Regions from separate parts of the Homo sapiens genome. Here region 2 is linked to region 1. The links come from fine-mapping of genetic effects on gene expression. A gene starts in region 1. The other region holds a variant in brackets. All regions are shown on one strand. Distances are from middle to middle. Region 1 holds the start of PRDX6-AS1 (PRDX6 antisense RNA 1). Region 2 overlaps PRDX6-AS1 (PRDX6 antisense RNA 1).

Region 1 (8,540 bases):
GTTCTTTGTACCTCTGGTAGAACTCACCTGTGAATCTGTCTGGTCCTGGGCTTTTTTTTTTTGTTGGTGTTGGGGTGATCAGACCCAACACCAGGTCATGGGGGTGACAAAGTCCAGCAGAGTCAAAGGATTGAGAAAAAGACAGTTTGAGGGAGAAAGGTGGAACCAGGAGGCCATTGTTAGTGTATGGAGGCTGTGAAGGCTCTGAGCTCTGGGAGCCCATGCTATTTATTGGTAATCCAACAGAGAAACAGGTGGTGAGAATGTGGAGGTCAGAAGAGCAGGTGCATGATCTACAGCTGTGATGGTTTGGCATTTATAAGGAACATGTTCTGCTACTTGAGATAATGAAGATACAATCGAACTAGGAGCCTAGGAGGGCTAGAAGCAAGGAGCCAGCAAGTCTAGACACATTCCAGAGGACATTGTGGCAGACATGCGAGCCCTGCCTCAGCTTTCTTCCCAACACTCAGCTTTTTCCCAACAGTTGGTAGGCTATTTATTACTGCTTCAATTTCCAAACTCATTATTGTCTATTCAGGGATTCAGTTTCTTCCTGGTTCAGTGTTGGGAGGGTGTATGTGTCCAGGAATTTATCCTTTTCTTCTAGATTTTTCTAGTTTATGTACATAGTGGTGTTTGTAGTATTCTCTGATAGTTGTTTGTATTTCTGTGGGGTCAGTGGTGATATCACCCTTATCACTTCTGATTGTGTTTATTTGAATCTTTTCTCTTTTATTCTTTATTAGTCTAGCTAGCAGTCTATCTATTTTATTAATTTTTTTCAAAAAACCAGCTCCTGGATTCATTGATTCTTTGAAGGGTTTTTCATGTCTCTGTCTTCTTCAGTTCTACTCTGATTTTGGTTATTTTTTGTCTCCTGCTAACTTTGGGTTGGTTTGCTCTTTTTTCTCTAGTTTGTTTAGTTGTGATGTTAGGTTGTTAACTTGAGATCTTTTTAGCTTTTTGATGTGGACATTTAGTGCTATAAATTTCCCTCTTAACAGTGCTTTAGCTGCATTCTGGAGATTCTGGACATTGTAGTTTTGTTCTCATTGGTTTCAAAGAACTTCTTGATTTCTGCCTTAATTTCATTATTTAACCAAAAGTCATTCGGGAGCAGATTGTTCATTTTCCATGTAGTTATATGGTTTTGAGTGAATTTCTTAATCTTGTGTTCTAATTTGATTACACCTTGGTCTGAGAGACTCTTTGGTATGTTTTCAGTTCTTTTGCATTTGCCAAGGAGTGTTTTACTTCCAATTATGTGATCAATTTTAGAGTAAGTGCTGTGGCGATGAGAAGAATGTATATTCTGTTGTTTTGGAGTGGAGAGTTCTGTATATAGCTATCAGGCCCACTTGATCCAGAGCTGAGTTGAGGTCTTGAATGTCTTTGATAATTTTCTGTCTCAATGATCTGCCTAATATTGTCAGTGGGGTGATAAAGTCTCCCACCATTATTGTGTGTGAGTCTAAGTCTCTTTGAAGGTCTCTAAGTACTTTCTTTTTCTGGGTGCTCCTGTATTGGGTGTATATATACTTAGGTTAGTTAGCTCTTCTTGTTGAAATGAACCCTTTACTGTTATGTAGTGGCCTTCTTTATCTTTTTTGATTTTTGTTGATTTAAAGTCTGTTTTGTTATAAACTAGGATTGCACCTGTTTTTTTCTGTTTTCCATTTGCTTGGTAAATTTTCCTCTATCCCTTTATTTTGAGCCTATGTGTGTCTTTGCACGTGAGATGCGTCTCTTGAAGATAGCATACTAATGGGTCTTGGCTCTTTATCTAGCTTGTTATTCTGTATCTTTTTTTGGGAGGCATTTAGCACATTTTCATTTAAGATTAGCATTTTTATGTGTGGATTTGATCCTGTCATCATGATGCTGGCTGGTTATTTTGCAGGTTTATGTGGATACTTCATTGTATCATTGGTATGTCAGTGTGTTTTTGTAGTGGTAATGGTTTTTCCTTTCTATATTTAGTGCTTCCTTCAGGAGCTCTTGTAAGGCAGGTCTGGTAGTGATGAATTTCCTCAGCATTTGTTTGTCTGAAAAGGATCTTATTTCTCCTTTGCTTATGAAACTTAGTTTGCATATGAAATTCTGGGTTGGAAATTCTTTTCTTTAGGAATATTGAATACTGGCCCCCAATCTTTTCTGGCTTGTAGGGTTTCCACTCAGAGGCCCAATGCTTGTCCGATGGCCTTCCCTTTGTAGGTGACCTGGTCTTTCTTTCTGGCTGTCCTTAACATTTTTTTCTTTTTTCTTTTTTTTTTCAGATGGAGTTTCACTGTGTCACCCAGGCTGGAGTGCAGTGGCACGATCTCAGCTCAATGCAACCTCTGTCTCCTGGGTTCAAGCAAATCTCCTGCCTCAGCCTCTTGAGTAGCCTGAGTAGCTGGGACTAAAGGTATGTGCCACCACACCTGGCTAATTTTTGTATTTTTAGTAGAGACAGGGTTTCACCACGTTGGCCAGGCTGGTCTTGAACTCCTGACCTCAAGTAATCCACCCACCTTGGCCTCCCAAAGTGCTGGGATTACAGGCATGAGCCACTGTGCCCAGCCAACATTTTTTCTTTCATTTTGACTTTGGAGAATCTGCTGATACATATCTTAGGGATGATTTTCTTGAATAGTTATCTTACTGGGGTTCTCTTGTTCCTGAATTTGAATGTTGGCCTATCTTGCTAGGTTGGGGTCATTCTCCTGGATGATATCCTGAAGTATGTTTTCCAACTTGGTTCTATTCTTCCTGTCTCTTTCAGGTACCCCAATCAGTTGTAGGTTTGGTCCTTTTACATAAACCCATATTTCTCAGAGGTTTTATTCATTCATTTTCATTCTTTTTTCTCTATTCCTGTCTACCTGTCCTATTTCAGAGAGATAGTCTGCAAGCTCTGGGATTCTTTGCTCTGCTTGGTCTATTCTGCTATTAATACTTGGGATTACATTGCGAGTACTTGTAGTATGTTTTTCAGCTCTGTGAGGTCGGTTATGGTCCTTTCTATACTGGCTGTTTTGGCTGTCAGCTCCTGCATTGTTTTATCATGATTCTTAGCTTCTTTGCCTTTGGTTAGGACATACACCTTTAGCTCAGCAAAATTGGCTTTTGTCCACATTCTGAAGCTTACTTCTGTCATCTTGGGCTCAGCCTAGTTCTGAGCCCTTGCTGGAGAGGTGTTGTGATCATTTGGAGGAAAAGGGGCTCTCTGGGTTTTTGAATTTTCAAGATTTTTGCGTTGATTCTTTCTCATTTTTGTGGGCTTATCTATCTTCGATCTTTGAGGTTGCTGACCTTTGGATGGCGCTTTCATGGATTGTTTTGTTTTTTCATCTTTTTCTTTTAGCAGTCTGTTTACTCTTCCTTACAGATGCTGCAGTTAGCTGGGGGTCCACTCTACACCCTGGTTGCCTCAGTTTTTCCTGTACTTGGAGGTATCAGCAGTGAATGCTATGAAACAGCAAAGATGGCAGCCTGCCCCTTCCCCTGGAAGCTCCATCCCAGGGCGGTACTGTCCTGTTGCCAGCATGAGCACACAGTATGTAGGGGGTGGCTGGAGACCCCAGTTGGGACATCTCACCTAGTCAGGAGGAACGGGATCAGGGATCCACTTAAAGAAGCAGTTGGGCTGTTTTTGATAGAGCAGTTGTGCTGTGTTGGGGATCCCATCAGCCCCTTGTTGGTTTGGGCTCTCCGAGGCCCACAGGCTGAACTGGCTGAGGTGCCCAACAGCCAAGTTGGTGGCCCGCCTTCCCCTCTGGGCACTCTGTCCCAGGGAAAAATTAGAAGTCTGTTGGCCACAGAACATGGGCGGGGGTGGCTGGATACCCCAGCTGGCATGATCTACCCGTCAAGGAAAAGTGGATCAGGGTCCCACTTAAAGAAGCCATCTGGCCATGCCTCAATAGAACAGCCTTGTTGTGCTGGGAAACTGCTTCTGCCCTTGTTGGCTTGGACTCTCTAAAGCCCACTGGTTGGAATGGCTGAGTCATTCAAACAGCCAGCTTGGTGGCCCTCCTTTCCTCCCCTCCTCCCCTCCCCTCCTCCTTCCCTCCTCGCCTCCCCTCGGGCATGCTATTCCAGAAAGAGATCAGGATCCGTTTGTGGAATACAGGCAGAGATGGCTGGAGGCCCCGGTTGGGAGGTCCCTCCCAGTGAAGAGGAATGGATTGGGGCCCCACTTAAAGAAGCAACCTGGCCACGTTCAGGCAATGCCGCTGTAGTGTTCTGGGAAGACCCTTCCTTGTTTGAACCATATGGATTCTCCGAAGCCCATAGACTGAAATGGCTGAGTCAACCAAACAGTAGAGATGGCAGCCCACCCCTCCCACTGGGGACTCTGTCCCATCACAGGTAGGCTATATTCCAAGCCAGTAGGTCTTATTTTGTGAGGTGTTGTGGAAGTGGGACCCACAGATTGATGCTGCTTGGCTCCCTGGATTCAGCCCCCTTCCTAGGGGTATGTACAGACCTCCCACCTTGCCTGAGTTACAGACACCTCTGTTGGGGATCCTGGGGCCGGAATATGTAAAGTTCCTGGATCTCTATGCATGCCTGAGCAGCTGCTCTGCTGAGACTCAACACACCTCTGTGTGTGGGACCCAAGACCCTGGTGATGTGGGTGCACAAGGTGGTGTGGGTGCACTGATCTCCTGATCTGTGGGTTGCAAAGATCCGTGGGAGAAGCGTGGTTTCCTGGGGTTGCACACTCACTCACTGCTTCCCTTGGCTGGGGGTGGGAGTTCTCTTGGCTTCATGTTGCTCCCAGGTGGGCTATTGCCCCACCTTGCTTTTCTCTCTTCTCCATGGGTCGAGTTGTTTCTGTGATCAGTCCCAGTGTGAGTGCCTGGATATTTCAGTTGAAGGTGCTATATTCACTTGCTCCTTTCTTCCTCTCCCTGAGTGCCACAGACAGCTGCTGCTTCTAATTGGCCAACTTGGCCCCCCTCCCCTGGGTTCTTAATAACGTAATTAAACCACAACCCATCCTAAAACTTATCCTACTTCTAGATTTCTGTTGAGTTCAGAAATACCCTCATTTTTAAAGATAATTGGAGTCAGGGTTTCTGTTACTTGCTGTCAAAAGCATTCTTAATTAGACTTGCTAATATTTGACTTTGGATTTTAAGAATAACCCAATATGTATTTTATTTTTACTATTGTTTAGTATTTAGTATACTTTAGTATCAGAATTAAATTTGTCAGTGAAGTGTATTGGGAAGTTTTTCATAGTTTGTACTGGCCGAATGTTTAAATAATCCAGGAATTATCTGTTCTTTATGATGTATTAGAACTTACTGATAAAACAAACTGGAACTGGTGCTTTTTTTGAAGTTAGAGCTTTTGCTGCATTTTCAAGTTTTTCTTTGATTATTGGGATAATTTCCTCTCTTCATGAGCTAATATTAGTAATCTGCATTTTGCTAAAAATTTGTCTATTTCATGTAGATTTTCTAATTTACTGGTGGGTATTTGGAATTTTAGAATTTTAAAAATCTCTTAATGCTGAATTATTTTTCTTTCCTTGTTGTAGATATTTGCATTTTCTTTCTCTTTTTTTCTTGTTCACACTTATTAATGGTTTGTATGTTGTATTCTAAAAACAAAAACAAAATAAAACAATTGCTTTATTTACCAGGTCTATGCAATTTTGTTTTGCCATGCTTTCTAGTTCATTAATTTTGAATTTTATTTTTATTAGTTTCTCCTATTCTCTGTTGGCTTATTTTTTTTTTTTTAATTTTTTTAAACTTTCTTGAACTGGGTGCTTAGATCATTTACTTTCAATCTTCCGTATATATTAAGAAGATCACTGAAAGCTCTGAATTTTCCTTTGAGTTAAGACTTTGGTTGTATCCCATAAGCTTTGAAATGGAGTGTTGTTTCATTGGTAATTTCAAACAGTCTGTGTTCTAGTACTGATTTCCACTTTAATCCAAGAGTTGTTTAGAAAACTGTTTTATAATGTCCATGTAATTAGATTGAGTTTGCTGTCTTTTTCATACTGATTTCTTGTTTGATTACCATGTGATCTGTACCTTTAGATATTTGAGATTTTATTTGTGACTTAGTCCTTGATAAATGTTTATTACTGCTTCATGGCTGTTTAAAAAGAGTGAGTTCTTTCTGTATAAAGGATACAACAAATATTATCTATGTACATGCCTTTCTCTACTTGTTTGTTGATCTATGTATGATGTCCATCACCCCTTATCTGCTTAAGCTCTAAAGGTCTTTTCTCTTTTCCCTACTCTTTCTCTTTCTACATCATCAATTCCTGATTCTCTACTAGATCATTATATTAGCATACAAACATGCTCTAGTACAACTCTCTCCAGTATAAATATGATGTGAGCCACATATGTAATTTAAGATTTTATGGTAGCCATATTAAAAAAGTAAAAAGAAAAAAAAGTAAATTTAATTGTCATATATTTCATTTAACCCAATGTATGTGAAATATTATTTCACCCTATAATTGATGTAAAAATTATTGATGAGATATTGTATATATTTTCTCATACTGAGTCTTCGAAATGTGGTGTGTAATTTATACTTATAGCATATCTAAATTTATGCTAGCCACATTTCTTTTATATATACATATTTTTTATTATTATACTTTAAGTTCTAGGGTACATGTGCACAACGTGCAGGTTTGTTACATAGGTATACATGTGCCGTGTTAGTTTGCTGCACCCATCAACTCGTCATTTACATTAGGTATTTTTCCTAATGCTATCCCTCCACCAGCCCCCCACCCCCCGGCAGGCCCAGGTGTGTGATGTTCCCTGCCCTGTGTCCATGTGTTCTCATTGTTCAACTCCCACTTATGAGTAAGAACATGCAGTGTTTGGTTTTCTGTCCTCGTGATAGTTTGCTTAGAGTGATGGTTTCCAGCTTCATCCATGTCCCTGCAAAGAAACATTAACTCATCCTTTTTTTTTTTTTGGCTCCATAATATTCCTTGGTGTATATGTGCCACATTTTCTTAATCCAGTCTATCATTGATGGGCATTTGGGTTGGTTCCAAGTCTTTGCTATTGTGAATAGTGCCACAATAAACATACATGTGCATGTGTCTTTATCGTAGAATGATTTATAATCCTTTGGGTATATGTCCAGTAATGGGATTGCTGGGTCAAATGGTATTTCTAGTTCTAGATCCTTGAGGAATCACCACACTGTCTTCCACAATGGTTGAACTAATTTACACTCCCACCAACAGTGTAAAAGCATTCCTATTTCTCCACATCCTCTCCAGCATCTGTTGTTTCCTGACTTTTTAATGATCGCCATTCTAACTGGCATGAGATGGTATCTCATTGTGGTTTTGATTTGCATTTCTCTGATGACCAGTGATGATGAGCATTTTTTCATCTGTCTGTTGGCTGCATAAACGTCTTCTTTTGAGAAGTGTCTGTTCATATCCTTTGCCCACTTTTTGATGGGGTTGTTTTTTTCTTGTAAATTTGTTTAAGTTTATTGTAGATTCTGGATATTAGCCCTTTGTCAGATGGGTAGATTGCAAAAATTTTCTCCCATTCTGTAGATTGCCTGTTCACTCTGATGATAGTTTCTTTTGCTATGGAGAAGCTGTTTAGTTTAATTAGATCCCATTTGTCCATTTTGGCTTTTGTTGCCATTGCTTTTGGTATTTTAGTCATGAAGTCTTTGTCCATGCCCATGTCCTGAATGGTATTGCCTAGGTTTTCTTCTAGGATTTTTATGGTGTTAGGTCTTACATTTAAGTCTTTAATCCATCTTGAGTTAATTTTTGTATAAGGTGTAAGGAAGGGATCCAGTTTCAGCTTTCTACATATGGTATACTGGCCACATTTCAAGTCCTCAGCAGCCACCTGTGGCTAGTGGCTGTTATATTAGACAACTTAGTTTTCATATTTTTTCAGGTTTAAAACTTCTAGTTTGACCCAACGTTTCCTTCTCCTACCACTTATTTCTCTGTTCATGTTTCTTTCTTTCTCTTCCTTCATACATTGAAATACATCTTGTTAAATCCAGGCTGGGTGTGGTGGCTCATGCCTGTAATGCCAACACTTTGGGAGGCCAAGGTAGGTGGATCACTTCAGCCCAGGAGTTTGGGACCAGCACCTGGGCAGCATGGCAAAATCCCATCTCTACAAAAAAAAAAAAATACAAAAAATTAGCCAGGCGTGGTGGTGTGCACCTGTAGACACAGCTACTGGGGAGGCTGAGGTGGGAGGATTACTTGAGCCTGGGAGGTTGAGGCTGCAGTGAGCTGAGATCACATCACTGCACTCCAGCCTGGGCAACGGAGTGAGAACCTGACTGGGAAAAAAAAAAAAAAAAGAAAATCCAATGGAAGCTTTTCTTCAATTTCAATGCATTTGACAGAGTTGATTACTTTTTTGGAAACACTTCTTTCTCTGCTTCCGTTACACCAAACTCTCCTATTTTTTTTTTTTGTTTGTTTGTTTGCCTCTCACTGGCTACTCTCTCTGTTTCACCTCTTCTCTTACTTCTGAATGTTGGTGTGTCTCAGGAAGTTCTCTGGC
Region 2 (8,000 bases), 40 kb after region 1:
TTATCTTAATGTTGCAGTAAAACCAAATTCCTCACTCTTTTTTGTGGGACCTGGAACTTTTCCACCTTTATATCTTTTCTCATGTGGTTCCCTCTGCCTAGAATGGCCCAGAACCTATCTTAAGCCGTGAAAATTGTACCCTTGAAAATCCAGCATCAACAGCATTGCTTCCAGGAAGGGAACAGACAGTTTCTCTCTGGCTTTAATGCACCCCTTTCATAAGAACTCATAGAATCACATTGGGCCCACCGGCCCACAAAGATCCCTACTTTGAAGTGATAAGCACTAGTAGCAGCTCATAGCTTGTTTATGGCTGTTTCCAGTTTGTGCCTTTCGTTATAGATAGTCATGCATAGGTCTTCCTCTTTTAGTGAACACATTGTTCACGAGGGAAGAGCTGTGTTTGATTCATCTTTATGCTTCCCATAGAGTCTTGCCCATGAGAAGCACTCAAAATACGTGTGGACTAAAGAAGCAAGTAAAGAGAAGAAATACTTTGTCTAGAATTGCCTATTTCTTTCTGGTGTGGTCTGAATGTGTTCCCCCAAGTTCATATGTTAAAACTTAATCACCAATGTGATAGTATTAAGACGACAGGCCTAAGTCCTGAGAGCAGAGCCTTCCTGGATGGAATTAGGGTCCTTACAAAAGAGCTTGAGGGAGTGTTTGTTCTTTTCTGTTCTTCTGCCATGAGGATACAGCATTCACCCCCCTTTTTGCCCTTCTGTCCCTCCCACCATGTCAGGACACAGTGCGTAAGGTACCTCCTTGGAAGCAGAGACCAGGCCGTTTCCAGCCACCAAACCTGCTGGCACCTTGATCTTGGATTTCCCAGCCTCCAGAACTGTGAGAAATAAATTTTTTATTGTTTACAAATTACCCAGTCTCAGGTATTTTGTTACAGTGGCATAAACAGATGAAGACACTCTCTAATTATAAAGGAATTGCCAAGGATAATATTAAAGGCAGACATAGAAGATAGGCATAGTTTTGGTTCACTTTGCTTCCGTGTCTTTGTACAAATTGTTACTTCTCCATCACCGGTGGGATGTTCTCCTTCCTACCCCATATGCTTCCACCAGTTCACAGCTACCAGTTTCTTCAAGACCTGGCTCAAAGCCTAGTCCTTCCTAGGGGACTTCTTTCCTGAGTCCAGACCACTGCAGTTGCCCCTTTATCCAGTGGTCACAAGGCATCCACACAGGCTGACAGTTGCTACCTGATCATCATCACCAGTCATCAAGCTGTTATTGCATACTTGGTATATGAAAGGCTCTATGTCATGTGCTGTGGGGGAGGGAGGGAGAGCTTTGCAGAGGAAGTGGGATTCAAGCAGGGTCTTGAAGGCTGTGTTTTAATTAAAGAGGTGGAAAAGAAGGGGAATAAAATAATGGACAACATTGAAGATCAACTTCTACTCTTCTTGTTATTGGCTATATAATTTTGAGAAAAATCTTTTAATCCCTGTGGAAATCCATTTTCTCATATGTAAGGTGGGAGTAATAAAATCTATTATTTTAGATTTAGGGAGGGTGCTTATGAGGATCAATGTGAAAGCCCCATGTATTGGTGAGAATGAATTTATTTGCAAGTGATATTAATAACTTAATTAAGATATAACATGTAAGGAGGCTGAGGCAGGAGAATCGCTTGAACCTGGGAGGCGGAGGTTGCAGTAAGCCGAGATCTCACCGCTGCACTCCAGTGTGGGCAACAGAGCGAGACTCTGTCTAAAAAAAAAAAAATGTACATATATATATGTATGTAACATGTAACATCTCTTCAGTGGTTAACATGAAGCTGACAAACCTCCTTTCTCCACGACATCAACTCTCTCATCTGGTGGTGTCCACCGTCTTACTCCTGTTGGTTGAAGATGGAAGAAGTCTTGCATTTGTACTTCCTTGTGCAGGGGCCCACATATGGGTGTTCCGTCATTCCAGTAACTTTACATTGCTTGGTAATTGACTGGTTTTCCAAAGAGAAGGGAACTGAATTGTCTCCCCCTCCTCTGCACACACTTTGTTGTTTTAAGTCTGCACCTTTGCTTGCTGTTGCCTCCACTGCTTGGAATGCGCCATCTTCTCAGCCTCAGCCTGGTCAGCAGTTACTGGGTCAGTAAGAGTCAGCTGAGGTCTCACTCTGTGAAGTTTCCCTGACCTCATTTTGACCTCCTAGACTGGCCAAGGTTCCCCTTTTCTGTACTCCCATGCCGTACTGGGTATTGCTCTCTCCAGTGCACAGTTATCACACCATACTACAAAGACCTGCCTCTCTCACTGGGCTCTCCATCCCTTTAAGGCTGGCACATAGCACTCACTCATGACATGGTTGTTGAATGAATGAATGGCCTTCCTCCATTCTCTCCCAGTCCTTTTTTTTTTTTTTTTTTTCACTCTGGGCACCACCATTCCTTCTCTCTCATTCTGCATTGTTTATGGCTTGTTAGTTATTAATGCAAAGCCATTTCTGGGTCTCTAGACCCATTGGTAATGGCCATTGGTAATGTCTCTAGGTGTTAATAATAACACTAGCTCACATCTACTGAGCACTTACTATTTGGCTGGCACTGTTCTAAGCACTTTGCATGTTTAAACTCCTTTAAACGTTCCTTTGTTGCCGCTTTTTTTTCTGCTAGGGACTAACCTTGACATTGTGGGGGAGAGGTGTTCTCGTATAGCTGTGGGACTGTAACATGGCTTTATTTTCCTATTATGTGCAGGACAGTAAATCCTGCAGAGGAATACAAGTTGACTAGGTCTGTCATCACTCAAATACTGGAAGATATGGCTGGGAAAAAACCAACAACAAAAAGTTTTGATATCCTCATAGTGCAATGACATTACAGTTTTATTTTGTTTTGTTTTTTTCTTTATGCGTAGTTCTAAATTACTGTATTATGTTTCAGGTAATTAAGCCAGAAGAACAAATTGGGATGGACTGTTGTATTTACATTTCAGTTTACTAGAGGTAGCCTTGAAATAGTTACAAAAATATGAATATCAGTGGGGAAAAAAATAAGGGGGATTTTCATTTTTTTTTTTCCAGAAACGATAAATTGGCAAGGAAGACAGATACGGGAAAATCAGTCATGAGAATTTGTCTTTCAGTGACTCTTTCTTGGCTGGGAAGAAAAGCTTTTCTTCTATTTAGTTGAGAACAGTGACAAGGATTATTTTACTTGAGGATGGCAGATTATTTTACCAGCAGCTGGCAGATGAGAATAATTCCCTAGACAACAAGGAGGGGCAGTATGGTAGGGAGGGAACCCGGTTCGGAGGGTCTGGGGTTCACAGCTCCACAGTGCTGCTTACCAGCTCTTAGCCTTCATTACATTGCTTACCTTCCTGGAGGTTCAGTTTCCTTATCCATAAAATGGGGGTCAGGTTGCCAAATTTATCAAATAAGAATCTAGGATGTCCAGTTAAAGCTGAATTTCAGATAAATAATTATTTTTTAGTGTAAATATGTCCCATAAAATATTTATGTCCCATGCAATAACTATGTCCCTAATGGTGCGTGGGACATATGCTAAAACATTATTTGTTGTTTATCTGAAATTCAAATTTAACTGTGCGGCCTATATTTTTT[C/TC]TGGCAACCCTAAATGCGGGCAGGGGCAGTGGTGGTGACATGTAGGGATGGTGTGAGGATAAAATAATACCACAGTTAGGTTTTATCGCAGTGTGTAGTCTGTGTGTAGTCAACACATAACTATAAGTAGTGACTGTAACATAACTGTAACTGGTGCATAGTAAAAAACAAATGGATATTATTAGTATAATAGTTGTTATTAATAAAGGTCTTTAAATGACAATTGGCCATACAGGAGCCTTTGGGGAAAAGTTTCTGACTCTAAATTAAGGGAAGGTAAATTATGATCAAGATCTGGGAATAAGATTTAGACTTACACAGTAATAATTTGAGGAAGAGAAAGACTTAGTAAATTAGTTATGTAATTACATAATTAACAACTTGGGAGGTTTTCTTTACACGTTTATTCCCTAGGGCATCATCTTTAAATTATATTTAGTTTTTGCTAAGTTGACCAGTTTGTGGTTTTAAGTGTTTACTTTCTTTTCTTTTGAAATGTAGGGAAAGCATATTTGACATCATCTTAAAGAAATTATGTAGCCATATAAAACCGGAGGGTAGGGTCTACTGGCCAGGAAAAAAAAAGGCCTTTACTGCCACCTGGTGGCCATATTCTTTAACTGCAATGTGCCTAAGTGAGGCTGGAAAGGAAAGCGTTGGAAAACATGCTAAACCCAGAGGGCACCAAGGCCGCGTCATGACAGTAAGAGCCGTCAAGTACTGTGTCCTTTCCCTCAGTTCTCAATCTCTCACAGCTTGAGGCTTGAGAATTAGCAGCTGGCTACGAGAGGTGGAGGAGAGAAAATGGTGAAGTCCATGCCTTCCTCCTTGGTACCGAGTTTCCAAACCTGAAGTGAAGGAGTCTGAGAGGGGAGAAGCTTCAGGTTGAGTAGACTGTTTTTTACTTTTTTTTTTGTTTGTTTGTTTTAAAGAGCCTCTTTATTTAATGGCTCAGAGTGGCTAGAAAATCCGTGGTATTGGTTAGCTTTCATCTCAAGTGCAGGGACAAGGCAAATCCAGAGAGAGGAGTTGAAAGGACAAAGAAAAAAGAAAAAAAATTGCTTTTTACGTGCATTTTGCTGCATGCAGCTCACTCAATAAACATGCGTTAAATGCATAAATATATCATGAGGTAAAAATCGGGGGAAAGGTGATGCATTGATGCTGATAGAGGACAGGCAAACTGCATTCCATTTGGACCGCAGCCTCTCATCCCCCCCCCCGCCACACAAACTAAGGTCAAAATCAGGGAGGGAGTCCAGGGTAAAGTTATCAGTAGAGTCAGCTCTAGGAGCTATAGTTAATCTATTTTAAAAAATCTTAAAAAACCCATAAGTCCATTATAGCAGGGACATAAAGCAGTCCTAGCCTCCTGACCCTGACCCAGCCATGGCAATCAGGGCTGCTTCCTTTTATTCTCCCTTGTGTCCTCATGGGTCTTTCCAAGCCCTGCAGGGAAGGGTGGAAGCTGGTTCCATCAGTGCCTCTCCCCCAGCTTCCACCCTCCTCTCTCTTCTGTGACCTCTCAGTTTTCCTTCTCTGTACCCCAAATCATGCCTGTCTTAGTCCATTGCTGTAACAGAATTCTACAGACTGGATCATTTATAAAGACAAGAAATTTATTGCTTATAGTTCTGGAGGCTGGGAAGTCCAAGCACATGGTGCTGGCATTTGGTGAAGGCCTTCTTGCTGCATCCTCACGTGGCAGAGGGCATCACATGGCAAGTGGGCAAGAGCAGGCTTGTCCGCTTGGGTTACTCTAACTCTTCTTTTTTTTTTTTTTTTCTGAGACGGAGTCTTGCTCTGTCACCCAGGCTGGAGTGCAGTGGTGTGATCTCAGCTCCCTGCAAGCTCCGCCTCCCAGGTTCAGGCCACTCTCCTGCCTCAGCCTCCCAAGTAGCTGGGACTACAGGTGCCCGCCACCACACCCGGCTAATTTTTTTGTATTTTTTTGGTAGAGATGGGGTTTCACCGTGTTAGCCAGGATGGTCTCGATCTCCTGACCTCGTGATCTGCCCGCCTTGGCCTCCCAAAGTGCTGGGATTACAGGCGTGAGCCACAGCACCCGGCCAGGTTACTCTAACTCTTCTTATAAAGCCACCAGCCCCACCGTGGGGGCCACACACTCATGGCCTTATTTAATCTTAATTACCTCTCAAAGGCCCTACCTCCAAATGTCATCGATATGTGAATTTGGGAATTAAGTTTCCAGCACATGAAATTTGGGGGTCACATTCAAACCATAGCAATGCTTAACCTTAGAATACTGCCTGGCATCTGCCCAGGCTTCCACAGCCACTACCTCTGGGACATGTTGGGATCTCTGTTTACATGTAAGGCTCGCCATGACCATTACACATCTGTGAGTCAGTGTAGGGTCCTGGTGGAAGCCCGGTCTTGGAGTCCCTCCATTATGTTTGCTACCCTGGCTCTCCACCTTCAATTTCTGGCTTCTCATTTTGGACTATGATGATTTTCTTGTTGTTAATTTTTTTTTTTTTTTTAGTATGAAAGTTTTCAAGACGCCTACAAGTGGAAAATGCACTCCTCCCAGCCAAATCAAGCTTCGCCAGATTCCTTACAGCTGTGTGCAGTGAAATGACTAATGAAAGAGCCCTCTGCTGCTGGTGGAACTTTCACATATGGCACTGTTATGCCACTCAGCAGGACCCGACCCTGGTATTTACATATTGGATGTCACCCCAAAAGCCCCTGACCAGGGGGTTTCCGGGATGTAATAAGAATGCCACTCTGGGCTTTGGAAGGTGCACCGTATGCACACCCATACTATAGGGCAGGGGTTAGCATTTCAGACCCCTGTTCCTCCCTTGACAAGCAAGTGCTTTTCTCCAGGGAAGACGTTCAGGTTCATTCATAGATCCATTGGTGCCGTGGGCAGCTCAGTAACAATAGCTCTGCTGCCTACCAGCTGCTGGTGGAGGTGTTGAGAATACCTAATGAGGAAGTCAGGGCCCCTGCGTGCTTCAGCAGAGCTGGATGCCTGGCATGGCAATCAATGGACACAAACCTTTGGATAATTTCCGTCCTTGGCGGTGTGTTCTATAGCATAGGTATGAAGTGGGTGCTCTGGGAGCTCAGAAGAGGGGCTCTTCTCTTAACTTATGGGTGGCCAGGGAAGGCTTCCTGGAGCTCAAATGACTGAGTGGAGTCTTCAACATTAAAAAAAAAAAAAAGAAAAAAAAAGTGCTTCCCTCCCACCCCCAGTTAAAAAGGTAATACACCTCATTGAAATAATTTAAACTTTACAGAAATGTGTTCCTTTAAAGTTCAGAGAGTAAAGAGGAAGTAATAAAGCTGAAATAGTAGAATTTCTAATTAACTGGAGCCTGTAGCTTTCTTCCTGAAAAGGGAGTGGTGTGTGTGCATGTGTGAGTGTGTGTAGGTGAATCTGTAAAGGATGGAGTAGTACTAAAAAGAGGGAGGTGAAGACGGAGGTGAGATCTCATCTTTGTGCCCTGAACCTCTTTGTTATAATGTCAGGCAATGAGAGAAATCAGTACTCACCCTCTATGGGACTCTGGCTTTTTCAAACTTGGTTTTCTAGGTTTTGGTCTTGGTTATTGATGGCTTGTAACTTCAGAGTCTCATTGCTGGCCACGCTTCCACGTGGTTTATTAAGATGTTTTCCTAAACAAAATTGATCTCTCCCTAAAAAAATTATAGGTCTAGCTGTAAGATGTTAACAATATTTAACCTGCTACAATGCCAATAAGAGTTCTTGTTTATTGAAGACTTTTTTTGCACCAGCTATGTGCTAAGAGCTTTACATTTGTTACCTCATAACATCAACCCTCACACGAACCTTATGAAGCGGGTATTTCATTATTCCCACATCCCAGATAAGGAAGCTAGGATTATTATTGCTGCACCCGCAAAGCTGATAATCAGTGGGGCTCGGCCCCAAACCGAGGTGTCTCTGACTCCTGGGTCTATGCTCACAAATGCACCATTCCTCTGCATTATTTCTCAAAAATATTTGGCTATAGGAGCATTTTCAAAAGTGAGCACCACTTACCTCTTAGTACTGTTATTAGCATTCCGTGGGACACAATTTGGGAAATACTGCCCCAGGAAAATACTGCCCTGTCTTTAAAATAGAGATAATAATACAATCTCCATATTGTGATGATTAAAAGACGTTTCAGGAAATGGGTGCTGAGGATACTTACCTTCCACCAGGAATGTGTGTGTGCTTTAAAAATAACATTTGTGGCCGGCCACAATGGCTCACAACTGTAATCCCAGCACTTTGGGAGGCCGAGGCGGGTGGATCGCTTGAGTCCAGGAGTTTGAGATCAGCCTAGGCAACATGGCGAAACCCTGTCTCTACTAAAAATACAAAAATTAGCCGGGCATGCTGGCGCACATCTGTGGTCCCAGCAATTCAG

What was found.
Region 2: its variant is fine-mapped to the expression of PRDX6-AS1 in whole blood (TOPMed, PIP 0.99).

Annotation. Positions count from the first base shown.
Region 1 is chr1:173,456,194-173,464,733 of GRCh38, reverse strand. It overlaps PRDX6-AS1 (PRDX6 antisense RNA 1), which reads left to right and starts at 3,372. Exons shown (of 2, transcript NR_125960.1): 1 at 3,372-4,356. LOC100506023 (a long non-coding RNA gene) reads left to right here. Exons shown (of 3, transcript NR_037845.1): 2 at 2,280-2,410. RefSeq lists an enhancer at 4,143-4,642.
Region 2 is chr1:173,416,720-173,424,719 of GRCh38, reverse strand. PRDX6-AS1 (PRDX6 antisense RNA 1) reads left to right here. Exons shown (of 2, transcript NR_125960.1): 2 at 6,098-6,931. All of the region lies in intron 2 of LOC100506023 (a long non-coding RNA gene), which reads left to right. It also overlaps a transcript of TNFSF4 not described here. Among named protein-coding and RNA genes, the nearest start is that of PRDX6-AS1, 41 kb to the left of the region's middle. RefSeq lists enhancers at 4,341-4,440, 6,199-6,538. The variant C/TC (reference allele first, on the strand shown) is at 3,592.